Homo sapiens: one gene and its partners. The protein of the gene in region 1 purifies or fractionates together with the protein of each later gene. This does not show direct contact. Each region holds a gene or a part of one and is shown in the gene's direction. Other genes may lie near its edges.

What was found.
Region 2: the proteins of IKZF5 (region 1) and SLTM purify together in Homo sapiens (affinity purification with mass spectrometry; 2 studies listed by BioGRID and IntAct, with this or other methods). This does not show direct contact.
Region 3: the proteins of IKZF5 (region 1) and ELF2 purify together in Homo sapiens (affinity purification with mass spectrometry; 2 studies listed by BioGRID and IntAct, with this or other methods). This does not show direct contact.
Region 4: the proteins of IKZF5 (region 1) and ZNF518B purify together in Homo sapiens (affinity purification with mass spectrometry; 2 studies listed by BioGRID and IntAct, with this or other methods). This does not show direct contact.
Region 5: the proteins of IKZF5 (region 1) and MCM10 purify together in Homo sapiens (affinity purification with mass spectrometry; 2 studies listed by BioGRID and IntAct, with this or other methods). This does not show direct contact.
Region 6: the proteins of IKZF5 (region 1) and LIN54 purify together in Homo sapiens (affinity purification with mass spectrometry; 2 studies listed by BioGRID and IntAct, with this or other methods). This does not show direct contact.
Region 7: the proteins of IKZF5 (region 1) and ZC3H3 purify together in Homo sapiens (affinity purification with mass spectrometry; 2 studies listed by BioGRID and IntAct, with this or other methods). This does not show direct contact.

What each region holds. Positions count from the first base shown.
Region 1 is NC_000010.11:122,998,796-123,002,295, reverse strand, and holds part of IKZF5 (zinc finger protein Pegasus), read left to right. Parts: intron 1-3,500. UniProt on the Homo sapiens protein: Transcriptional repressor that binds the core 5'GNNTGTNG-3' DNA consensus sequence. Involved in megakaryocyte differentiation.
Region 2 is NC_000015.10:58,885,180-58,888,679, reverse strand, and holds part of SLTM (SAFB-like transcription modulator), read left to right. Parts: intron 1-124; coding exon 125-295; intron 296-1,059; coding exon of another isoform or gene 1,060-1,078; exon of another isoform or gene 1,079-1,139; coding exon 1,140-1,454; intron 1,455-1,560; coding exon 1,561-1,705; intron 1,706-3,500. UniProt on the Homo sapiens protein: When overexpressed, acts as a general inhibitor of transcription that eventually leads to apoptosis.
Region 3 is NC_000004.12:139,128,719-139,132,218, reverse strand, and holds part of ELF2 (ETS-related transcription factor Elf-2), read left to right. Parts: intron 1-3,500. UniProt on the Homo sapiens protein: Isoform 1 transcriptionally activates the LYN and BLK promoters and acts synergistically with RUNX1 to transactivate the BLK promoter. Isoform 2 may function in repression of RUNX1-mediated transactivation.
Region 4 is NC_000004.12:10,454,627-10,458,752, reverse strand, and holds the start of ZNF518B (zinc finger protein 518B), read left to right. Parts: upstream 1-1,326; 5' UTR 1,327-1,436; intron 1,437-3,764; 5' UTR 3,765-3,948; exon of another isoform or gene 3,949-4,126. UniProt on the Homo sapiens protein: Through its association with the EHMT1-EHMT2/G9A and PRC2/EED-EZH2 histone methyltransferase complexes may function in gene silencing, regulating repressive post-translational methylation of histone tails at promoters of target genes.
Region 5 is NC_000010.11:13,168,058-13,171,557, forward strand, and holds part of MCM10 (protein MCM10 homolog), read left to right. Parts: intron 1-2,864; coding exon 2,865-3,206; intron 3,207-3,500. UniProt on the Homo sapiens protein: Acts as a replication initiation factor that brings together the MCM2-7 helicase and the DNA polymerase alpha/primase complex in order to initiate DNA replication. Additionally, plays a role in preventing DNA damage during replication.
Region 6 is NC_000004.12:82,924,103-82,927,463, reverse strand, and holds the end of LIN54 (protein lin-54 homolog), read left to right. Parts: 3' UTR 1-2,861; downstream 2,862-3,361. UniProt on the Homo sapiens protein: Component of the DREAM complex, a multiprotein complex that can both act as a transcription activator or repressor depending on the context. In G0 phase, the complex binds to more than 800 promoters and is required for repression of E2F target genes.
Region 7 is NC_000008.11:143,538,648-143,542,833, reverse strand, and holds the start of ZC3H3 (zinc finger CCCH domain-containing protein 3), read left to right. Parts: upstream 1-1,386; 5' UTR 1,387-1,412; coding exon 1,413-1,458; intron 1,459-3,513; coding exon 3,514-4,186. UniProt on the Homo sapiens protein: Required for the export of polyadenylated mRNAs from the nucleus. Enhances ACVR1B-induced SMAD-dependent transcription. Binds to single-stranded DNA but not to double-stranded DNA in vitro. Involved in RNA cleavage.

The sequences.
Region 1 (3,500 bases):
CCACCCACCTCGGCCTCCCAAAGTGCTGGGATTACAAGCGTGAGCCACTGCGCCCGGCCACTAATAATTTTTAAAAGCCCCTAGAACTACCGTAGCTTCTAAAAAGGGAGGAAAGGAACGATTCACAAGTATTGAATTAAGAAAAGAGAATTCAGTTACCTGTAAGTCCTTATTTGGCTAAATATGTTTGGAACAAAGAAGAGACTAGATGTGAAGAGAGAAGACAAGAAGTACGAAAATAAGATAGATCAGTCTGAAGCCAGGAAACAGGGAAAACAAAAACAGCCCTGTTACTGAGTGGTTGTAAAGTACAATAATTCATATTAATGGTATGTCAAATGTTGGTCTATTTCCAGTAGATTTCGAGTTAAGTCAAAGAAGAAGTTTTGATTCTTAAAAAGTTGGTCATATTTTTGTAAATTGGAAAATCTGCTTTTGCAGAACCCCCTCATTCCTCAACCCTACAGTTCTACTATTTAAAAACTTAGGCTGAAAAGGCCCAAGAACAGCCTATTCTTGAAGAAGAAAAACAAAGCAGGGGGACTTAAATTACTGTGATAGCAAGACTTATTATTAAGAGTATCTGGTATGGCAGCAAGGACAGATAGGCTAGTGGAACAGAACAGAGAATCCAGAAGCAGAGCCACATACGTGCATATAACCATTTGATTTAAAAAGAAGACATCAGAGCTTAGTAGAGAAAGGCCGATCTGTTAGGTACACATTGCTGGGACAGTTGGATATCTCTTTGGAAAAAAGTATGCTTTGACTCTTATCTCACACCATACACAAAACTCAAGTCCAGATAAAAATATGAAAGGTAAAATAAAAAGCATTTAGAAGAAAGTATAGGAGAACATCTTCAAGTAAGATGTAGGCAAGGATTTCTTAACTAGGACACAAACAACTCTAAATGTAAAGGATAAAAATGGGTAAATTGTACTATATTAAGAACTTCTGTTCATCAAAAATTACCATTAAGAAAGTGAAGGCCGGGCGCAGTGGCTCACGTCTGTAATCCCAGCCCTTTGGGAGGCCGAGGTGGGCAGATCACAAGGTCGGGAGATCGAGACCATCCTGGCTAACACGGTGAAACCACATCTCTACTAAAAATACAAAAAAATTAACTGGGCGTGGTGGCGGACACCTGTAGTCCCAGCTACTCGGGAGGCTGAGGCAGGTGGCGTGAACCTGGGAGGTGGAGCTTGCAGTGAGCCGAGATCACGGCACTGCACCCCAGCCTGGGCGACAGAGTGAGATTCTGTTTCAAAAAAAAAAAAAGAAAAGAAAAGAAGAGAAAACGAAAAGGCAACCACAGTGGGAGATACTTAAGATGCACATATCCTAATAAAGGACTCATTATAAAGCATTCTTCCATATTAGAAAAAGACAACACAATAGAAAAATAAGCAAAAGGTATGAGCAGACATTATACAACAGAGGGTATCTAAGTGGTTAATTAGTATATATTAAAAAGTTTACATCTTCATTAGTCACCAAGGAATGTAAATTAAAAGTAATGTGATACCACTAGACACCCACCAGAACGGCTAAAACGAAAAAGGCAAAACATGCCCAAGTATTGTCAAGGATGTGGAGCAGCAGCAGTTTTGTTTACTGCTAGTGGGAGTGTAAATTGCTATAATCACTTTGAAAACCTATTTGACATTATCTAAAACTGAATATATGCATGCCTTTGATCCAGCAGTTTCACTTCTATACAACCAACAGAAATATGTACGTAATCAAAAAACGTGTAGTAATATGTTCATAGAAACTTTATTCACAGCAGCCAATTACTGGAAATTACCCAAATGATCTAAAAACAGTATAAGAGATAAATGAGTTGTGGCATGGTCATACAACAGACTCCAGCAGTAAATTTGAGCAAACTTCAGTTGCATGCAACAATATGGATGAATCTTACAATTACAATGTTGAGTGACAGAAGCCAGACAAAGGTTCATAGTGTGTGATTCCATTTACATAAAGCTGAAGAACAGACAAAACTAATCTACAGAGTCAGAAGTCAGGATGGCTGTAACCCTTGTCAGGGCAGAGGGTCCTAGCATTGGAAGGGTACACGAGGGGGGTTTCTGGGATGCCGGCATCCTTCTGTTTCTTGATTGTGGTGCTGATTTTATGAATGTGTTCATTTTGTGACAATTCATTGAGCTCTGCTCTTATGATTTATGTGCTTTTCTATATATGTACAAGACTTCAACAAAAAGTTAAGCATATATGCTGAAAGTGAGTAATTTTTTGTCTACCACTGGCTACTAAAGATGGAAGCTTGTTTAGATGGAAAATTATTCATTAAATAGTTTGAGTTTAGAAAAAGAAGATTTTATAAGGTATATTTACCAGAGAATTGTACTTATTTGCATAAAAATTGTTTTTCCTGGAAGAAAAGACCTTTTTTATCCCAGGTGCTAGACTTCATCTTATTCTTACTAGAAAACTTTTTTGGCTATTTTATTTGTGAATTTGGGCCATAAACCTATGTGAAGACCAGCTTGTGATTGCAGAACACACAAGAGACTTTCCCTTTCTACACTACGGTCAGGGATTTTCTTTTACTTTTTTATTTTTCCCTAGTCTTGGAGTGGATAGGATGATAGGTAGTAGAGGTGGTGATTTGGATATTTCTAGAGCAGGGGTTGGGAAGCTAAGGCCTGTAGGCCAAATCTGGCTCAACGCCTGTTGTTATAAAGTCTAATTGGAACATAGCCCCACCCATTTGTTTACATACTGTCTGTGGCTGCCTATTGTCTGTGGCTTCTTACCGTGACACAGTTGAGTAATTGCAGCAAAGATGAGCATGGCTTGCAAAGCCTAAAATATTTACTAACTGGCCCTTCATAAAAACTTTGCAACCCCTAGTTCTAGACCACTTATTTGCAGACTACTCATTCATGTGAACACTATGTCTTAAGAGCCTTTGCTGGTAGTTACTAGCTGCATGCAGCTATTTCTATTTAAATTAATAACATTAAAAACTCAGGTCATATGTATTAGCCAAATTTCAAGTGCCTCAGTAGCTATATGTGGCTAGTAGCAACTGCGTAGGAATAGCACAGATAAGAAACATGTCCATCATCCAGAAAATAGTCTCCTTTTGTCAACCAGGTTGGAGTCCAGTGGTGCAATCACGGCTCACTGCAGCCTTGACCACTCAGACCCAAGCAATTCTCCTGCCTCAGCCTCCTGAGTAGCTGGGACCATCAGCATGTGCCACCACTCAGCTAATTAAAAACACTTTTTTTTGTAGGGACAAGTTCTCCCTATGTTGGTCTCCGGTCTCCTTGGTTTCTTGTCTTCTTCATCAATAATCTCTGCTTGTGTTCTTATTTATTTAATCTGAACTTGTTTTCTCTTTTTTTCTGCCTTTGAAATTTCTTCCCATCCTCTGTGACTAAGTTTGAATCCGTATTTATATTTAATTATTAAATATATTGATTTTTTACCATTTTGTGTATGTCTTTAGTTCACCAGTAAGA
Region 2 (3,500 bases), on another chromosome or scaffold:
TGTCTTGAGTTTACTAGCCCTGTTATGTCCACAGTTCTAACATGTGGTATGTATGACTCCAAGTAAATGTCGTTTGATTACTGTAGAACTAATTTATGTAAATAAGCAAATATTTCTCTTCAAGGCGAGATGATCCTTACTGGAGCGAGAATAAAAAGTTGTCTCTAGATACAGATGCACGATTTGGCCATGGATCCGACTACTCTCGCCAACAGAACAGATTTAATGACTTTGATCACCGAGAGAGGGGCAGGTTTCCTGAGAGTTCAGCAGTACAGTCTTCATCTTTTGAAAGGTAGATATGTTGAAAATTGTTATATTTATTTTATGAGCCTTGCTAGTGATAACTCTGTTTCTCCTAAAATCTTAACTGGAAGTACCAGGTCAGAACTGAATGCTCAGAACAATTTACGTGGTTTTTGTTTCTGTTAATGGGAATGTGATTCAGTATTCCAAATTAATTAACTAGAACACCATTAAGCAGGTTGGCTTTATCTTCTTATCTTTATTCTATTTTAATTTTTTTTGAGACAGGGTCTCATTCTGATTCCCAGGCTAGAACGCAGTGGTGCAATCTTGGCATACTGTACCTCTGCCTCGTGGGTTCAAACGATTCTTGTGCCTCAGCCACCCAAGTAGCTGAGATTATAGACATGCACCACCACCATGCCCGGCTAATTTTTGTATTTGTAGTAGAGACGGGGTTTTGCCATGTTGGCCAGGCTGGTCTAGCACTTCTGACCTGAAGTGATCCACCCACCTCAGCCTTCCAAAGTGCTGAGATTACAGGCCTGAGCCACCACTCCCCGCCTCTTCTTATCTTTAAAACTGTGGAAGCACTGATTGCTTTGGATATGCCTCAACTGTTAAGAACAGTAAAACATTCTTCAGCTTGGTAGTGACTTTTGAGTGTTCGGTATCATTTCTCCTGAATGCTAAAAAACCAACCTTTAGGCTAGACACTTAGTTCAGTTTAAAAGAAAATGAGTTGTAATAATCAATAACTAGCTTTTTTCCATGGCTTTGCCTTAAGTTCATTTTTTGGTTTCATTATTGTAGGTTATGCAGACAAAGTTAAGAAGAATTAAGCACTCAAGTAAGCACTTCTTGGACCTATATTCTTTGTTTCTAATCAATAGGCGGGATCGCTTTGTTGGTCAAAGTGAGGGGAAAAAAGCACGACCTACTGCACGAAGGGAAGATCCAAGCTTCGAAAGATATCCCAAAAATTTCAGTGACTCCAGAAGAAATGAGCCTCCACCACCAAGAAATGAACTTAGAGAATCAGACAGGCGAGAAGTACGAGGGGAGCGAGACGAAAGGAGAACGGTGATTATTCATGACAGGCCTGATATCACTCATCCTAGACATCCTCGAGAGGCAGGGCCCAATCCTTCCAGACCCACCAGCTGGAAAAGTGAAGGAAGCATGTCCACTGACAAACGGGAAACAAGGTAGCTGTGTACTATGTAATGCTTTCCTAGTGGTCTCATGCATTGGGGTTAAAAAAAGTTAAGATTACAGTTTTGATCATGTATGTTTTTATGTTTTGTTTAACAGAGTTGAAAGGCCAGAACGATCTGGGAGAGAAGTATCAGGGCACAGTGTGAGAGGCGCTCCCCCTGGGAATCGTAGCAGCGCTTCGGGGTACGGGAGCAGAGAGGGAGACAGAGGAGTCATCACAGACCGAGGAGGTGGATCACAGGTAAGTGCTGCGGGAGGCTTGCCGCGAGCCTGCACACATACATTTAGAGGATTCATGAGCTACTCTGGATATACAGTAGCATTTTGATGTGGCTTAGATTAGCTAGATTGGAATGATTCAGAGGCATTAATTTTTTATTTAAATTTTTAAAATCTGAATTTTTCTCATACTTTACTGTCAGTAGTTGACCATCAGTAGTCCAAAGAGTTAAGGTACTAGCCTTGAAATACTCCATTTCGATTAAACTTCCCAGTGAAATTTAAGAATTGTTAATTTGGTAAGTGAGCCTATCTAATGATAACTTTGGTTTTATTTCTTTTTAAGAAATTGAGGCTTTCAAACTGCATCTGAAATCTTTGGCCCCTACTTGTGTTTCCTTTTCAATAAAATATTCTTGGCCGGGCATGGTGGCTCATGCCAACACTTTGGGAGGTAATCCCAACACTGTGGGAGGCCGAGGTGGGCAGATCGCCTGAGCTCAGGAATTTCAGACTAGCCTGGGCAACATGGTGAAACCCCATCTCTACTAAAAATACAAAAATTAGCCGGGCGTGGTGGTGGGCGCCTGTAATCCCAGCTACTCTGGAGGCTGAAGCAGGAGAATCACTTGAGCCCAAGAGTTGGAGGTTGCAGTGAGCCAAGATGGTGCCACTGCACTCCAGCCTGGGCTACAGAGCCAGACCCTGTCTGGAAAAAAAAAAAAAAAATACACACACACACACACACACACACACACACACACACACACACACACACTCTTCTTTTTCTCCTGCTTCATTTAAGTAGCTTAAAGTGTAAAATTGAAATAGAACTTTTGTCTATTTTTTGTCTTCTTATCCTAAAGGTAGATGAGTGTAATGTTACATATTTTTAAATTTTTACTCTTGTGACACTTTATTGACTTGAATATTTTGTAAGTTAATGAGCTGGACAGAGGAAAGTGTCTTTATCTTTTAGAGACCGAAATGAACAAAAACCTTTTGCCTCATTTAAAAGTATTCTTCTACTGATGAAATACTGGCGTGTGGGTTGATAGTAGCACAGTTAGGACATACTTTCATAAATTATATACCAAAAAGAATTGTGCAGTGTGTGTGTCTCCATTATATGCTGGTGTTTGTTTTGTATTTTAATACAGTGTGTGTGTGTGTGTTGTTGTTTTTTTTGTTTTGTTTTGTTTGTTTGTTTTTTGAGATGGAGTCTTACTCTGTCAAACAGGCTGACATGCCGTGGTGCGATCTCGGCTCACGGCAACCTCCGCCTCCCAGGTTCAAGCGATTTTCCTTCCTCAGCCTCCCGATTAGCTGGGACTACAGATGTGCGCCACCACGCCTGGCTAATTTTTGTATTTTTAGTAGAGGCGGGGTTTCACCATGTTGGTCAGGCTGGTTTCAAACTTCCGACCATCCACCTCTGTCTCCCAAAGTGCTGGAATTACAAGCATGAACCATGACGCCCACCTCCTAAAAAGAATTTTTAAGACTGAGTCTATAATCCAAATAAGTCTGCCTTGTTTATAGTAAAATTTAAGTATCAAAGACTAGCCCTCCGCATTCAGAGGTCCTTTTAGAAAATGTGTCCTGAGGAGGAGATCTTGTATCCTCCCTTGAAAATTTTCTTTTTCATAATGTTAGTCTGTAAATTGTTCTGCCAGTATTATATCTAAGCCTCTCTGTGGGTACCTTCTGCTTTCTTTCCTGTAAGCTAAGTATCACAATGCTTGCTTTCTCTTTCCATAGATCTCTAGTTCTACAGTTTCTGTTTCTTTGTGTTTGCTACTCTGTTTTCCATAGTT
Region 3 (3,500 bases), on another chromosome or scaffold:
TATTTATTTTATTTTTTTGGTTTTTGTACCAATTGTTATTTTTAAATGAAAAAAGTATTTTGATATTTCTTAATTACCAGGATCATTGTAAAAAACAATAAACTCAGACATACTGAGAAAATGAAAATCCATCTTTTGTCTGCTCACCTCTCTTTCACCAGGTTAATAATTTGAGGTGTATTTTTTCCAGACTTTTAAATGTATATGCTAAATAAATATATAAATGGAATCAGACAACAGTACTATTCTATGGCTCATTTTCCTCCTCCTTCCACCCCCTCTTGTTTGTATCATGGATATTTTTCCATGCCAGTATATAGCTCTAACTGCCTTAATTGCTTAATTGATATTGAATAGTCTCTCATTGTATGGATGTTTGTTAGTATGGGTGTATGTTTTCTATCTCTTTTTTTTTTTTTTGGCATTATGAACATCTAGCTTAGGGGACTTGTCTTAAAACTGGGTTTGCATAGCAAGTGCACCATTATTTATTCTAGTGACGTATTTATTTGGAGTGGTTTCTGGGGTTAAACCATGAGAGGTAGGGGAGATGAGTCCTCCCTAAAGCCTGCCAAACGGCATTTTTCAGTTTTGATAAGATTTTTTAAGGTAACCTTACTCTACCTCGAAAGAGAAAATGTGGAACAAATTTATGTACTTTTCACATACTCCTGAATTTTATTATCTTTCTATATATTCCTAAAGTACATTGAGAAAAGGATTACAATACCACTGCTTTCAGCCATTTCATTGTACTTGTCTTTGGAAACTTCTGATACCTGGAGAGCAATGACTGAGTGCATATAAAAGCACTTTCTAGGTAAACACTGCAGCATTGCACTTGTCTTGCCTCTTTAAACTAAGAATCTCTCTCCTTAAATGGAAGTTTTTGAGATCACTGTTAATACTTACAGTAGGGTTGCCAGATAAAATACAGGATGTCTAGTTAAATTTGAATTTCAGATAAACAACAAATGACTTTTTACTTTAAGTATGTCCCAAATATTGCATGGGACATTCTTACAGTTATTATTCAGTGTTTCTCTGAAATTCAAATTTAACTGGGTATCCTGTATTTTTTTATTTGCACCCTAGCTTGTAGGGAATTAGACAGCTTGTGCCAAGACCCATGGTGACTTGAGCAAAGTAATGCTAAGTAAAATAACCTTGTACATGTGTTATTTTTTGCTATTTTATTTTTAAGCAAAGACTCCTGGTTTCTTCTCTTCCATCCCCTTTCTCCCATAAAAATAGCTACTCTTCTACACAGTACAAGGCAATAATTATCTGAATAGCTGCATGCAGTGTCCTCTGGTCTGTATCATATGGCAGAAAAAAGGCTCATGAAGTTACTTGCCTCCATAGATGAGCAAATGTTGAACTTATAAATACCTGTTAATATTAAAATTTGTTGACTTTATTATTCTTTGAGCCAAGCTACAAATATCTGTACTTAAATGCCACTTTAGTTTATATGAAGCATGTGTTATTAAGGAGGATATAAAAATTGACTACGATATAACTCTTGCTCTCAAATATCCTACTAACCAGTCAAGGAGTTGTATATGTAAACACATAATTATAATATGGGACAATGAACAGTGGTAATATTAGGCAAACAACTTGTTCTATAAATACGTAGGATAGAAAAATTAATTCAGATTGGAGGATTATAGAAGATTCCCTGGAACTTGATGAAAAGCCTTCAGTAGATGAAAAGGATTTGGACAGATGTGAAGGCTACAAAATAACATGAGCAAAAGTCTTGGAAATGTTCACATTTAGGAATTAGAAGCAATGCCACTAATCAATTTATGTTAAGTAATGTAGGGAAATAAGATATAAAGGTGGTATATTAGTTTCTTGGGGTTGCTGTAACAAAGTACTGTAAACTAGGTTGCTTAAACAACAGAAATTTATTGTGTTACAGTTCTGGAGGTCAGAATTTAGGAATCAAGGTGTTGATAGATTTTTTTTTTATTGTTGTTTGTTTTTTTTTGAGGGCTAGGAGGGAGAATCTCTTTAATGCCTCTCTCCTAGCTTCTGGTAGCCTCAGGCACTCCTTGGCTTGTAGATGGTGTTCTCCCTGTGTCTTTCCATGGTTTTCCTTCCCATTTGTGTGTCTCAGAGTCCAAATTTCCCTTTTGTAAGGACATAGTCAGATTGGGTGAGGGCTCATCTTAATTATCTTGTCTTAACTTGATCATCTGCAAAGACCTTATTTCCAGATAAGGTCACATTCACAGAAGCTAGGGGTTAAAACTTCATCTTTTTGGGGGACACAATTCAGCCCATGACAGGTGGGTTGGGGTTATATTTCAGAGTGTTAAAGCCATTGTTTAATTTGTTAAACTTTCCTTTTAGACCAAAGGGGAGTCATTAATGCTTTTTATGCAAGGAAGTAACACAAACAGTTCTGATTGTGATGTGAAAAGGTGCCCTCTAAAGTTGAGGGCAAATAGTAGATTTGAAGACTATTTCTATTGTTAAAATATAATATCAGCTGTCACTAATTGAATAACTTACTCTGTGCTTTGTACTTATACTATGCTAAGAACTTTGTGCATATAAAGTCATGGGACTTTAAAGGACAGAAATATTAAAATCTCTTTTTTAAATATGAAGAAACCAAGATTTAAAGAACACAGAATGGGGAAACAGGGACAGATGTAGATAATTTGTGCCATTTAGACATGTTAAGCTTGAAGTGTTGACTGAGTATTCCTGTAGTGATGTTAAAGTTGGTAGTTTAAAATTTGGTTTTGGAATTCAGAAGATGAGTCAGAGTAGAGGACAAATACTTAGTCATTATCAGCATAGAGGTGCTATTTGAAACCATAAGAATGGGTGGGCTTACTTGAGAAGGTAGTATAGGGCAAAAAGAAAGGAGACACTGAGGATAGAACCTCACTAAGTTGGCTAGACTTGAGTCTATGGAGATGAAAGAAGAGTCAGAGGAGACGCTTGAAAGTAGAGTGGTAGGCCGGGGGTAGTCGCTCATGCCTGTCATCCCAGCACTTTGGGAGGCTGAGGCGGGCGGATCACCTGAGGTCAGGAGTTTGAGACTAGCCTGACCACCATGAAGAAACCCTGTCTCTACTAAAAATACAAAATTAGCTGGACATGGTGGCACATGCCTGTAATCCCAGCTACTCAGGGGGCTGAGGCAGGAGAATCACTTGAACCTGGGAGGCAGAGGTTGCGGTGTGTCAAGATTGCGCCATTGCACTCCAGCCTGGGCAACGAGCGAAACTCCATTTCAAAAAAGAAAGTAGAGTGGTAGAGAAAGTTGGAAGAATGAATTTTTTAAATGAGGGTAATAATAAATGTATGAGTCTGCGGGGAGGCAGTAGAGATTGAAAACTGAAATAGAATTTGGTCGTTATTAACATTTTGAGGCTGGGTATGGTGGCCCATGCTTGTAATGCCAGCACTTTGGGAGGCTGAGGCAAGTGGATTGCTCGAGTCCAGGAGTTCAAGACCAGCCTGGGCAACATGGT
Region 4 (4,126 bases), on another chromosome or scaffold:
AGACTTTGAACTCTCTGGCATATTCTCTCTGATAGGTGCTATCTGCACATAAATGTGTTTTTCTGAGAAGAGGTTCCTTAGCTTTTCTGAGCCCTAGGAGATAGAAAACCAGGACCCTAGCAGCTCCCTGATCAGGACCGAGGTTAGGAGCACTGCAGCCTAGGGCAGGAAGAAGGATTTGCTCTCTGGGCTGCTATTTTCTCTGCCCAGCTCCTGATACTTTAGTGGTGGAGGTTTTGCCCAGCTGCTGGACTTGTGGCTGAGCCTGTCTTCTTCAACTCCGCTTCTCCGTGTGGCAGTACTGCCCAGGCCCACATCTCCTCCGTGCAGCATACTGGCCGCTGTCCGTGCACGCCGACCTTTGGCCGCCAACAGGAAGGTGATGGAAACCAGCCTTGCCCCGCCCCCGCCTCCAGAGCTTTGAAATAAACTTTAGCTGTTCATCCCGAAGAAACTGTACTTCCCAGTGACGCTGCTCCCATGCCTCAACCTGCCCCTGCTGGAGAGCTGTTTCACTTTGTGGGGAGTCACTGATTGTGCGGGACCTGGCAATATGGTCTTCTTCTTTCCTCTTAGAGGCTCTATTCTAAATATGTCTTCCTTCCGGACCGTAGATGCAGGTGTATCTAGAGGGCAGTTGGCTCGCCCAAAATAGCACCGAAGTCCAGGAGGCAGGAAAGAAACTCTGGCATTAAATGAGCTCACACCCTCTCCAGACTCCCACAGTCATTGTCCCCTCTGACCCTCGCAACGCCCAACTGCTAGAGGAGGCTTTGCGCCTCACATACGACCTTCCCCGTCTTCAGAAATGAAGACACTGAGAGAGGTCAGGGGACTTTCTCGCCAAGGTCCAGCAGCTAAGATGTAAAGGAGTAGGGAGAGTCAGGATTTGTACCCAGGACTTCAAGGCCATCTCCTTCACTGAAGCTCTCCAAGAAGACGAGTTTGGAGGCTGAGGACCTGAGCTCCTCTTCTCTCGCTTTCACTCACCCACTGCAGGACTGCAGGCTCCAGGGAGGCAGGCGCCAAGGCCGCCCTCCGCGGGACCCGGTACAAGGCAGGCGCCCCGGGATGGCAGACTGGGCCAGGACCGAAGCCGAATCCTTCTTTTGCCTGCGGCATGGCTAAATGTGGACCTCGCTCGCTACGGTGCGAACGTGTTGGGTCAAGCTCTAAGCCCAGAAGTGGGGCTCGGCTGGGTCTGAGGCTCCCCGCTCTGGACAGCTTAGAAGCCCGGCGGGGGCGGGCGCAGCCTTAGAGACCTCAGGCGCCGGCCTCGCTGGAGCCGCGCCGCCGCTTCACATTGCGCACGCGCGGGGCTGGCGCGGGCTCCGCCCCCCGGGTAGGGACCTACAGCGGGCGCGGCGCCGGCGGTCTGCGGCCGGCGGTGTAGACGCCCCTTCGCCGGGACCTGGCACCCGAATCCGGCCTGCCGGGTAAGTAGCTGAGCGGGAGGGCGAGGGCCCCCGGATCCGCGTGTACGTGACCGAAGCGCCAGCTGCGGCCGGGTCGTGGGGGCGCGCGGGGCGGGGGCCTGACGGGGCCAGGCCGGGGCGGGTCGAGCGGCCGCGGCCCCGCGTGCCCGCGCTGAGGGCTGGCGTCGTGGCAAGTGGCACCGGGTAGGCCGAACGCGGGCTCCGGCTGGTGGGCGTGGGGCACCGGCTGGGGTGGGGGCCCGGGCCGCGGCTTGGCGCGCGTTGAGCAGGTACGCGGGCCTGGCCTAGGGTCGGGGTCCGGCCCGGCGCCCCCAGCTCGCCTTTGTGCGCCGCGACCCCGCGGACTCGGCCGACGCGCCGGGGCGACCGAGGCGGGGGTGGCAGCGTCCCGCGGGGCCGTTCGTGTGGCGCCGCTGGCCCGGCCTGCGCTCCCCGCCCCCAGCGTTATGAAGGATGCCTCCTCCGAGGGCTCCTACCGTCCGCGCCGAGCAGGAAGTGTCGTCAGGAGGCCATTTTTAAAGCCTCCTGCGGGCCTCGGAGCTGAGCGTTGACGGTTTTGGTTTTCTTCGGTTGGAAGAACCCCGGCCTTCCCTCGCGGCGAGCGGGACGCGCCTGGGAGACGACGATGCGCCCGATGCACCTGGCCTCGTCCTCCGAGCGCCCAGGCTCAGGCGCGCTCGCCTCGGATGCTGCCTGCCATCGGGGGAGCGTGCCGACAATAAACTCGAAAACCAGCCTGGCATTGTCTTTCCTTGAGAGGGTCAGGGGTGGGCTCGTCCATCGAGGTCCTGCGCATCTTTTACGGGGGGCGAGGACATAGGAGGTTGAGAAGAGATGGTGAAGGTTTGAATTGTTCCAAATGCTGATGTCATTGTGGGACCTCCCCATACCGGCCTGCCCGTCTTATCTTGGTGTCTTTGGGGTTTGGGGCTCTGTAAAGCCAAGAAATTGCAGGGTTCAAAAGAATGAAAGTTTCTTAACCAGAAAGGAAAAGCCAAAAGAGCGAACGGGAGAAAACACTTAAGTCTTTATAAGTTGGGTAGTTAATGTATCCCGTTACAATACCTCTGACTTTAAAAATTGTAATAATGAACGATTTATCAACGTAACATTAAAAAAAAAAACTACAGAGCATTATGTCCTATTTAAAAGTACAAATCTACGTAGCTAAACTCTAATGTTGTGTTAGACTCTTTAAACCATCTTAAGTTTAGACTTGAAATCACCAAGAATTAAGACAAACCTGGGTCTCTAGAAGCTTGCAGTACTCTTCTACAGTAGAGCAGAGACTGAGGATGGGAATACATCTCTTTTCTCTCTCTTGAGTCACATATGCAAAGTTCAGCCCAGCATATGATGTCAGTACACAGCCAAGGGTTCAGAAAATATTGTTTTAGAAACCAATGTTATATACTGTTGTCTCTTTGAGTAGAATACAAATAGTTCTTTTTTAAAATTGTGTGATATTGATATCTTTAACTAGGATGCAATTTTTAAAAGTTACTTTCATCTTGGATCAAATTTAGCCTTCAAAAATAACACTTTTTTGCGTAGACAGTTTGCTATGCTGATAACATTCATTGCAAATGCAATTTGAAAAGAGCAGACAAAGGATGGCATTCCTTTATTTATTGGGACTCCTTTCTGATGTATTATACCCGATCTGAAGATCTTAAAAATGCAAAATGGCAATTAAAAAAATCCATTTAGATCTCTAGAGATTTATTTGCCTTTAAGTAAGGGCATCGGGGCCAGTTTTTGTGCAAAAGGAAGAACAAAGAACATTTTATTTTTGTCTCTGTGAAGCCTGCTCTTTCATTCATTCATTCACTCATTCTTTCAACCAGTACGAACCTTATTGAGTGCCTTCCTTGGCCAAACCCTTCGCTATTGATCATGATAAACAAGATCCTTACCAGGGAGGGTTTCCCCAATCATGATTGTTCTCAAACTGCCTGCTGTCTACTGCATTTTCTTTGTTATGCAAACTCAGCTAACTGCAATTTCCAGGATTCATCCTTGGAGTGAAAGCAGCTACAGATCAGCCAGTCTAAACATTGTCATCATAGGGTGAGGGTGGGGAGGCATCAAAATCAACTAGGGAGAATTTTAAACCATATGCCTGAGCCCCACCCTAGGAAATGGTAACCTGATCTGCTAGGTTGCATGTGAGTCCTGGGAATCCTTTTTAAGTTCCGTGGGTGACTTTGCCATACACCCCTGCTTGAGAACCACTTCTGGGGCTCATTCCCCTTATCTTCAACACTCTGAGAAACCAAGGCTGTGCCGGTCCAGGACTTAAACCCAAGTGTTTGGCTTCTGTTGCAGGCCTCTTTGTGCAGCGCCTTGCTGACGCCCAGGGTTCTGATGTAGAAGCCTACACCAGGGCCTGAGGTTGTGAAACTCATGGCAGTCCACGCCTGAGAAGAGAAGGCCTGAAAGAGAAGGAAGAGCCCATGGGACTTGCCACGGTTTTGACTTACATCTGCAACTCCAAGGCTACAGGCAGGAAGTAAGAACAGTGCTCAAGTGGCAGCAGATACTGACTATGGCTTCATTTCACAGCTTCACACAGCAGGGTAGCAGAAAACAAAGAATGTAAGATTGGACCCAGTTGCAGCTGTTCACCAACTCTGTGATCTTCAAAAAGCCATATAGCTTCTCCAGACCTGTTAATCAGGGAAGAAGCA
Region 5 (3,500 bases), about 110 Mb from region 1:
TTCAAAGTGAATAGTATGGGGTCCCCAGGCAGCATTTTCCACCTGTGGCCCCCAGTGGTGTGAGCCAGAGCCTCTTCCCGGGGTGTGCCCTCTTTGGCAGACGGGAACAAGAGATGGTGGAGGCCTCTTTGCTTCCTTGCAGGCATGTGACATTCTCAGAGCACAGGGGGCTGCCTGGCCTCTTCTCTCTTGCACTGTGCAGCCTTGGAGTCTTTGTGGACTAAGCAACTCAAGCTAATCCTTATACAACCTCTGACTGAGCATTAGGCCCCATCATCAGATTCTAGGCCTGAAGTTTGGCTACTGGCTTTTTCCTTCTGGTAAGGGAGTGTAGAGTGGTGGAAAGGATATTGGTTTGCTGATCTAGAGATTCCTTATTAACCCAGCTCCTGAACTGATCTGTTTCTCCATGTGATCCTGAACAAGCCCCTCACCCTCTCATACTCTAGCCCCTGAATTTCAGACAAGGAGAGTAGGTCAGATATCCTTAATATTTTTCCATTGAATACCTCTGATTTTATAAACAAATAGTGCCCAAATAGGGGGGAAAAAAGAGCAAAGAAAATAGATAAATCAAGAAAGAAGAAATCCGATTGGCAAATAAACAAACAATTCTTAACCTCACCAGTAATCCAAGAAATGCAAATCAAAACAGTGAGATGCCTTTTTAAATCGTCCATCAGATTGACAAAAAAATATTTAAGTGACACATCAGATATTGATGAGGTGGTGGGGAGAAGTGGCCCTTGTGTACAGCTCTAGTGAGAGTGATACAGATGATAGCAATTATTTAGGGAGATAGTAAGGGCAACAGAGTCCTCAGCAGAATTTCCCTTTTAGCAAAAAGCAGCCCCCAAGTAATTTCTAACAAGGCCAGCCAGAAAAATCAAGCGGACATAGAAAAGCAAGCTAGTAATTTGCACGGATGAATACCTGCAGCTGTGCCAATAGGAAAAGGCTCCCTGGGGGCCAGGCGTGTTCAACATGGCGGCCCTTTTTCTGTGTCAACCACGTGTACAGTAAAGAAACAGACAATATGGCGCTGGCCAGGTAGAGAACCACCTGCATAATAAAAGATTAGGGTGGGGCAGCCAGGTTTTCCACCCTATGCAAATGGCATACCTAGTCCAGCCAATCTTTTATGTCCTGTGTAAATCAGACATTGCGTCCTCAAGCTCGTCTATGAAACCCCATGCATTTTGCCATGGACGCGGCAACCCATTTCTCTGGGACCTCTCTGCTGCCGAGAGCTCTTCTCTTTCTTTTGCCTATTAAATCTCTGCACTTAACCTCACTCCTTGTGTGTCAGCATCCTTGATTTCCTTTGCATGAGACAACGAACCTCAGGTATTACCCCAGACGAACTATGCCATTTCAAGAGTGCATCCACTTTGAGAACAATTTGGCAGCATCTAGCAAAATTGGAAAACGTGGATACCCAGCAATCCAGCAATTCCATTTCTGATAGATATTCCCAAGAAACACATGTGCGAGAAGACGGATACACGATTACAGCGTATTTAGTAGTGGGGAAAAATTAGAAATAGCCCATATTGTCCTTTATTGGAAAATGGATTAATGAGGTGTGATACAGTCTTATTATAGGATACAATATAGCAACGAAAAGAAAGAAACTAGAACTATATGGGGTTTTTTGTTTGTTTTTGAGATGGAGTCTCGCCCTGTCACCCAGGCTGGAGTGCAGTGGTGCGATCTCGGCTCACTGCAACCTCCACCTCCCAGGTTCCATCAATTCTTCTGCCTCAGCCTCCTGAATAGCTGGGATTACAGGCACGGGCCACCACGCCCAGCTAATTTTTGTATTATTAGTAGAGACGGGGTTTCACTTTCTTGGCCAGGCTGGTCTTGAGCTCCTGATGTCAGGTGATCCTCCTGCCTTGGCCTCCCCAAGTGCTGGGATTACAGGCGTGAGCCACCACGCCTGGCTAGAACTATATGTTTTGATTTGGGTTAATCTTACAAGCAATGTTGAATGAACCTGGAATGCAGAGTAATGCAGTGTGGAATATTTATGTAAATATTTTTAAAACCATCTAATATAGATTGACTATGACTGCCTATATATTTATGTAAAAGCATAAGAATGGACTGGAATGATGCCTCAAAATTATGAAAGTGATTACAATGGGAAGTGGGGGCAGTGGTCAGGAGTTGGGATAAGATTTGGCATGACAGACTTCATCTGGAAGGTGTTATTTAATGTTAAAGGCAAGAAGCAAACAACAAAATGTTAATGATGGCTAATTCTGGGTGATGGGATCTTAGTATTTTTTATATAGTTTGTATCTTTTTTTTTTTAAATCTCAAATAATTTGAAGGTCAGGAATTATATACATCTAAAGCCTAAATCTATGTTTGGTGTTTTAAAATTATTCCCTTGTTGGTTGAATTTCATGGAAGTCGGTGTGCGGGAAGCTGTCTCATTGATTGGAGTAGAATGCTTGAGGACATTTGGCCCCGTGGCTGGCCCACTCTACTCACTAAGCAGTATTGGCTCCTTCTTAGCCCAGTGTCCCCTAAGAAGCACCTGGGGACAAGAAAGATGGAGACAAGGAGAACAAAGACCAGGCAAAATGGTGCATCTGTAGGTTTTTGTTTTTTTTGTTTGTTTGTTTGTTTGTTTTTTTAGTTTCAGCTTTCATTTTAGATTCAGGCTTGTTACAGAGATGTATATATAGTGTGATGCTGAGGTTTGGAGTATGGTTGAACCCATCACCCAGGTAATGAGCATTGTACCCATTAGGTAGTTTCTCTTACCCCCATGGGGTCATTTAAATTGCCTAAAGTTGAATGTTTGGAATTAGCCGTGCTTATTCTCTGTCCTTTCTCTTCTTTTCCCCTAGAGGAGGAAGACAATCTGTCTCTGCTGACCGCACTGCTGGAAGAAAATGAGTCAGCCTTGGATTGTAATTCAGAAGAAAATAACTTCTTGACGCGGGAAAATGGCGAGCCCGACGCATTTGATGAGCTCTTTGATGCCGACGGCGACGGTGAATCTTATACAGAAGAGGCTGATGATGGAGAAACAGGAGAGACAAGAGACGAAAAGGAAAATCTGGCCACTCTCTTTGGAGATATGGAGGACTTAACAGATGAAGAAGAAGTTCCCGCATCACAGTCAACTGAAAATAGGGTCCTCCCTGCTCCTGCCCCCAGGCGAGAGAAAACGAATGAAGAGTTGCAAGGTGCCCTAACTACTTGCCTTCCTTATTTCTTTCGGATAAGTTGGATGAAGACCACCAATCTGATAGTTGTCATCAAAATAGCTGCTGATTCAAGGGTAGAGATAAATGACTTTGTAAAAAAAGAAAAAAAGAAAGAAAATTATATGAGTTGGTAGATGAAATGTTTGGGCCAGCATTTCAGCACAAACTATAGACTCTATCAGTGTCAGCCAGCTGCACTTGATCCTGTACGGAATGGCTCTGAAACTTTTCATATTTCTTATGGAATAGTAGCACTTTGGGATGTATGTGGAT
Region 6 (3,361 bases), on another chromosome or scaffold:
GAGGATGGGCAATGTGTTTCTATAATAAGGAAAGGCTAACAGATGCTCTGGGCTGTCTCCATTTTCTTTCAAAGAGGTGGTATGTATTTGAAGTAATAAATTGTCAAAGTGATTACTGGGTACTATTAAAATGATAGGTGGATATAAATGGAAGTAAACATTATGTAGTGATAATATAGAACCTCACATAGTAATCAAGTATAAAATTTGGCATGGGTGGAGAAACAAAGAATAGGGAAGCTGCAAAAGATGAATTTAGAGAAGTTTTCATCTATACAATCAATTATTTTTACAGACTTTTTTTTTTTTTTTTTTGAGACGGAGTCTCGCTGTGTAGCCCAGGCTGGAGTGCAATGGTGAGATCTCAGCTCACTGCAACGCCTCTGCCTCCCAGGTTCAAGCGATTCTCCTGCCTCAGCCTCCCGTGTAGCTGGGACTACAGGTGCATGCCACCATGCCCGGCTCATTTTTTGTATTTTTAGTAGAGACGGGGTTTCACCGTGTTAGCCAGGATGGTCTCGATCTCCTGACCTCGTGATTCGCCCGCCTCGGCCTCCCAAAGTGCTGGGATTACAGGCATAAGCCGCCGTGCCAGGCCCTTTTTATAGACTTTTGAACTAAGAGGTTTCAAACCAAATCGCAACTCTTACTTGATTTACAGAAATGGGCCTCCTAACAAAATTTTCAAAATTGTGGTGGGATTTCTTTTTATAAGGGAAGTTTAATATGGCATTATTTTCAGCCAGTGATTTGGAAGGTCTGTTTTCCTATAATTACTAAAATAACCTAAATCATTTTCAGTATTCAAAAACTCTATGAATTTAAGAGCCTGTTGTGACAGGACTCTTGATTTTATGACAAGAAAAAACCATGTTGGAATTCAGGCATTTTGTTAGGTACCTTAATCATCAGTAATTAGTATATGATTATTTCATTTCCTACAAGGACTCTATAGTTGTATGTATTAAGTGTGTATATATGTTCATATGAACATGCAAGATATAGGCAATAGAAATTAAGTAATCCAAAAGAGGATTCCGTTATTCACTAAAGTATCTTCCTTTTAAATTTGGATTTATAAAATCATAGTGCAGTAACTTTAAATGTAGATAGTTCAAACATTCTTAGCACCTCAATCTAGTATGTTTAATTAAAATTTGTATAAATGTAAATTAGTGTAAGAGGGTAAAATAATAATCAAGTTATTTTTCAAAAGATTGCAATAAGTTTTTGGTCTAAACTTAAACTTTGTTCATTTTGTACATACTCTGTGTTAATTCTAATTGCACCTTTGTGATGTGTATTTATATACAGTGTGCAGAAAATGTTCGTGAAATTTTGATTACAATTGTAGATTATGTATGATGGCATTGCTTACGAATGTTTTGCTTGTAAAAAAATTTCAAGGTGCAATCAAATGCTACTAGTTTTTCTGATTTTCAAAAATCTATCTATCTAAAATATTAAGCCTTTTCCTTCCTGTGTAGTACTTACTAAATAACTTTTTGTATTCAGGCATTTGCATCAAATTGCTGAACAAGATGAATAGCCACATTAATTCAATGATTTTAAAAGACTATTTGGGGAGGGTTGGGTATATAATTTTTTAGCTCTATTTACATCCCAAAGTAGAAAGATTAAATTTATATTTACTAGAGCTATTCAAAGAATACACTTTTCTATATTGTAAAAACAGGACAGCAAAGTAAATCATACAGAAAATAAACATTTATACTATTCTGTAAAAAAGGTTTTGCATTTTTTCTTTAGTATAATAACACCACTTTATTAACCATTTAATATGCAAAAAACCTTTTAAATTATCTGAAGTAAATTTGACATTACTTCTGAAAACACACAACTAAAAAATTCTATCATTTTGCTCAGTTATTACTAACATAAATTGCTTTGAAATGAGAATATGTCTTCTCTTTTTTTCCCCACTGTTTCTTTTAAGAGCAGAAACTCAGCCGGGCATGGTGGCTCACGCCTGTAATTCCAGCACTTTGGGAGGTCAAGGCGGGTGAATCACTTGAGTCCAGGAGTTCTAGACCAGCCCAGGCTACATGGTGAAACCCTGTCTCTACTAAAAATATAAAAAAATTCACTGCGTGTGGTGGCGCACACCTGCAGTCCTCGCTACTTTGAAGGCCTGAGCCTGCAGAGGTTGAGGCTGTAGTGAGTCAAAATTACACCACTGCACTCCAGCCTGGCAATCAGAGTGAGACCTTGTCTCAAAAACAAAAATACCTAGAAAATCAATCTACTCTGTCTTTTAATGTGAAATGTTCTTATGATAGCTATCTTTCTTAGTTTCCTTTTTTTCTGAAGCACTAAACACAACCTGTAGGTCTTATCTCTGGGGTCTGGGAAACAGAACCTTAATGTTACAGGTACAAAAGCAAACAGAGTGATTAGTTCCCCATTTTCTGGTAGTGAACAACTGACATTTTTTCAATCTTATGTAAAATGTGAATAAAAATAATTTTAGAAAAGTTATCTATTTTTATTGTTCTGTAACACAAATAGTTAAGAAAATGAATACTTGTTATGTAAATGAAGCTTCACAGCAGGACCTCCGGCCATAACTTTGATCATGTTGTATCTCTTAAGCATTTTATATAGGAATTCTGGTGTGGCTACCCAAAGCAGAAGGGAAGGCAATCAACTAAAAATCCCTTTCTATTGGAGTTATTTTCATCATGTAAATTACTTCAGGCTTTTCTTGTTAGGGCTTCTTGAATGCACATTTTGTCATTATCTGTATACCAAAGGTGAGCTTTTTTTTTTAATCCATGTGATTTTATGAGTTGAAAGCTATAAGGTTTTTTTTAATTAAAAATTTCCTTCTAAATGGCAAATTTTGTGACAGCATTTAAGACACTCAGTTTCTATTCAAAAGCAATAAGAAAACAAGTATGTTTAGGGTTATGTTTATTATAAGGTCACTGGGACTTTATAAAACTGTCATCTATCATACTGGCATATGAAATCTGGTCATAGTATTATAAAAAGAATACATCATGACCAAGTAGGGTTTATCCTGGGAATAAAAGTTGATCCAATGTTTTAAAAAAAACATAGTTCACTGTATCAGCATACAAATAAGAAAAGCTAAATGATCATCTCAAAAGTTGCAGAAAATGACTGTGGATATAGGTAAAACTGCTAAATTATATTTTCTTGTTTGTTTCTTGAGATGGAGTCTCACTCTGTTGCCCAGGCTAGAGTGCAGTGGTGCGATCTCAGCTCACTGCACCCTCTGCCTCCTGGTTCAAGCAATTCTCATGTCTCAGTCTCCCGAGTAGCTGGGGTTACAGGCATGCGCCACCAAGCCTGGCTAATTTTGTATTTTTAGTAG
Region 7 (4,186 bases), on another chromosome or scaffold:
GATTCTTCTGCCTCAGCCTCCTGAGTAGCTGGGACCACAGGTGTGCGCCACCACGCCTGGCTAATTTTTTATATTTTTAGCAGAGACGGGGTTTCACCATGTTGACCACGCTTGTCTCAAAACTCCTGACCTCGTGATCCGCCCGCCTCAGCCTCCCAAAGTGCTAGGATTACAGGCGTGAGCCACTGCGCCCGGCCGAATTTCCTTCCATTTTAAGGCTGAAAAATATTTCATTGTTTGTATGGATCACATTTTGTTTATCCTTCCATCCACCCGTGGACACTTGGGTTGTTTCCGTCTTTTGGCTATTGGGAAAAATGCTGCAGTGAACATGGGGGCACAAATATGTTTGAGTCTCTGGTTTCCATTCTTTTGGGAATATAGCCAGAAGTAGGGTTGCTGGATCATACCGTAGTTCCATTTTTGTTTTCTCCTAGAAAGGCAGATTGCCACATGCAGCGCCTCATTTGGATGTGTCTGGAATCTTGACTACCCTACCTTCTCCTACAAATGGACCTTGAGAGCTTGTTTGGAGGTTCTACCAGGGAAGCCCAGCTCTTCTATTGGGTATGGTCGTTCTCTTCGACTGAGCTGCAGCTTCGGGAGGGACGCACATGAAGCAGTGAGGAAGGAAGGGGACACCCGCCTAGCCAGCCAGATCAGCCGAATCAACCCTGGCGATCAATGGGATGACAGGTGTCGCAGCCAGATCGCCCTCATATCCGGTAGTTCTACTTTTAACCTTTTGTGGAATCTCCATAGTTTTCTGCGGTGCTGCGCCATTTACATTCCCACCAACAGCGCACAGAGGTTTACACTTGTACATGTTTCCAATGACGAACTAAAAACTTTCATGTTTTCAGAGGTTCAACATGTCTATCCAGGGAACCTTGCTCTCCGATGTCTTCTCCTCTGGCCACAGTAAGAGGTTTCACAGACCCTCCTGGGTCAAGAGTAATTGTTAACTGGCCCTTCTCCCATGGGTCCCCGCGTAGACCCCCCCCCCCCCAACACTCAACTGGGGCGAAATGAAACGCAGGGACTGTGGGAAGGAACTGCGGTATGGGCTGGGTGGGCCCCAGGTCTCGCCCCTCGCCAAGTCTCCCAAGGGGACGCGATCCCGGACTGCACAAGCTGGGCCCGCGCGGCCTCCCAGAGCCCAAGCAGTCCCTTCCCAGCCGTTACCAGGCCACTTCCCGGCGCTCACTAGTGACGTCCCCGCCTCGTTCTGCGCGTGCGCGGCTCTGCCTCTCCGCTGCCGTTGTCAGCGCGACGGCGGGTCCTCGGCGGTCGGCAGACATCCGGGCCTGCTCCTGGCAGCTCCGCCCTGGCCCGCTCCGCCCCGCCCGCGGGAAAAAGGTCGCGTAGCGATGACGTCGTGGGGGCCTGGCCGGCCGTCGCGGACTCGGGAGATGGAGGAAAAGGAGATATTACGGCGGCAGATCCGCCTACTGCAGGGTAGGTCCGGCCGGGGCCGGGACGCGAGTCCCCTTCTTTCCCCCTCACCTCGCGGCGGGTCCCCTGCCCCCTTGTCGAAGGGGTCGCTCACCGCCCGCGTGTTCTGGGTGGCGGCTGGGGTGGGGGACGGTAGGGTCCGCCAGGACTTGTGGGCCGGCTCAGGGCCCGGGTCAGTCCCCGGCTCCAGCTTTGTCGAGGGAGTGGTGCCGGCCCTGCTGGGGCTGCAGAGGGTGGAGGCAGGGCCGTCGCTTAGTAACCCGCGGGGGGCGGCGGCCCTCCCCACCACCGCGGGCTGTCGCGTCCCCCGGCGCCCACTCTCTCCCCGCGCCCCACTGCGGGGCTGGGACTAGTTCATGGCTCATTTCGGCAGAGCAGGCTAAGGGCGCACGCGGGTTCCTTCCTTGACGCCCGGTTTTTTTTGAGACAGAGTCTTGCTCTGTCACCCAGGCTGGGGTGCGGTGACGCGATCACGGCTCACTGCAATCTCCTCATCCTGGGTTCGAGTGATTCTCCTGCCTCAGCCTCCGGAGTACGTGGGATTACAGGTAGGCGCCAGAACGCCTGGCTAATTTTTGTATTTTGAGTAGAGACGGGGTTTCACCATGTTGGCCAGGATGGTCTCTAACTCCCGACCTCAGGTGATTCACCCGCCTCGGCCTCCCAAAGTGCTGGGATTACAGGCATGAGCCACCGCTCCCAGCCTCGACGCCCGGTTTTGATGCCCCTTTTCTCCGAACAGTCACACTCCCCTTGCCATTCCAGGCGCAGACTGAACAGGCTTCAGCTTCCACACTTAAACATTAAAAAACCCAAATTGGTCTTTCTAAACTTAAAAAGAAAATCCATGTTCGGACGCAGTGGCCCACACCTGTAATCCCAGCACTTTGGGAGGCTATGGCAGGAGGATGGCTTGAGCCCGGGAGTTTGAGACCATCCTGGGCAACATGACGAGAGCCCGTCTCTACAGAAAAATTTTAAAAAGTGAGATGGGCGTGGTGGCTTGCGCCTGTAGTCCCAGCTACTCAGAGGTGGAAGGTTTGCTTGTGCCCTGGAGGTCCCGGCTGCAGTGAGCCGTGATTGGGCCACTGCACTCCAGCCTGGGCAACAGAGAAAAACCACATCTCAAATAAAAAGCCAAAACCAACCAAACAAAAAAAAGCTTTAAAAATTAAAAATCCTTTTTGCTTTTACTCTCACAAAGGGAAGACTTAAGGATTGGGAAAGTGTGTATGGATAAGAGGCCAGGTGGGCTGCCTCCCACTTGGGGACACTTCTTGAGCTCCCATCACACCTGCTCTGGGGCGTCAACACGTCTGGACGTGGCTTTCTGTGCCCCCGGGGGCAGGGCCTGTGGTGGGGGAATGCTGATAACTGGGAGGCTGGCTGCTGCCGCCCTTGCCTGTGTTCCTGGCCCTCCTGCACCGGGGTAGCTATCCAGGGACTTATTTGGAAAGTCCTGTGGTTGTGTCAGTTCACTGCAGTAGGACTCTAGCCCATTGATGTTTCCTCTTCTGCAGGGAAGACTATGAATCTGGCAGAGCAATGGCCTCTGCTCCTAGTATTCTTTTTTCCTGTTGTCAGGCATGGGGTCCTCGAGAGTGTCAGTTCTGTTACACTCAGTGGAGTGACTCCTTTCCATCTGTAGGCAAGCCAGAGGGCCTGTGCGGCCACTTGTCCCCTCTGATTCAAACAGTGCAGAGGGGATCATTGCGATTCTCTTCAGACTGAGTGACACGTCTCAGCAAATGACTGTGGACTCAGTAGACCAGCAAATAAGGCTTGTTACACCACACGGTTCATTTCTGTGTGAAGCAGGCAGAAGTAGGACTGAAGTGGAGCTGATGGAGAAAAGGCTCATAGAAGCGACAGGCCCAGGTGACGCGGGCTGAGTTGTCAGTGAGTCCCAGGCTCTGGGGGCTGCCCCTCCTGAAACTGGCAGGGGCTCAGAAGTGAGATGGGATCTGGGGGTATCTTGCCAGCTGATGCCCTTCCAGGGTAGTCATGATTATCGCGGTTACCCTCTGGCTAACTGGGCCTGTGGTTCTGTCTTCTCAGGTCTGATTGATGACTACAAAACCCTCCACGGCAATGCCCCGGCCCCTGGTACCCCAGCAGCTTCTGGGTGGCAGCCACCCACTTACCACAGTGGCAGAGCCTTTAGTGCCCGCTACCCTCGTCCAAGCCGGAGGGGCTACTCTTCCCACCATGGGCCTTCGTGGCGCAAGAAATACTCCCTCGTGAATCGGCCCCCGGGACCCTCAGACCCTCCTGCCGACCATGCTGTGCGGCCGTTGCACGGGGCCCGGGGGGGCCAGCCTCCTGTCCCGCAGCAGCATGTCCTTGAGAGACAGGTCCAGCTCAGTCAGGGTCAGAACGTGGTCATCAAAGTTAAACCGCCATCAAAGTCTGGCTCTGCCAGTGCCTCAGGGGCCCAGCGGGGCTCTTTGGAAGAATTTGAGGAAACCCCCTGGAGTGACCAAAGGCCCCGGGAAGGTGAAGGTGAGCCCCCTCGGGGACAGCTGCAGCCCTCGAGGCCAACAAGAGCCAGGGGGACCTGCAGTGTGGAAGATCCTCTTCTGGTCTGCCAGAAGGAGCCTGGTAAGCCCAGGATGGTGAAGTCAGTGGGCAGTGTGGGCGACAGCCCCCGGGAGCCCCGCCGGACAGTCAGTGAGAGTGTGATTGCCGTCAAGGCGAGCTTCCCATCCTCCGCTCTGCCCCCACGCACTGG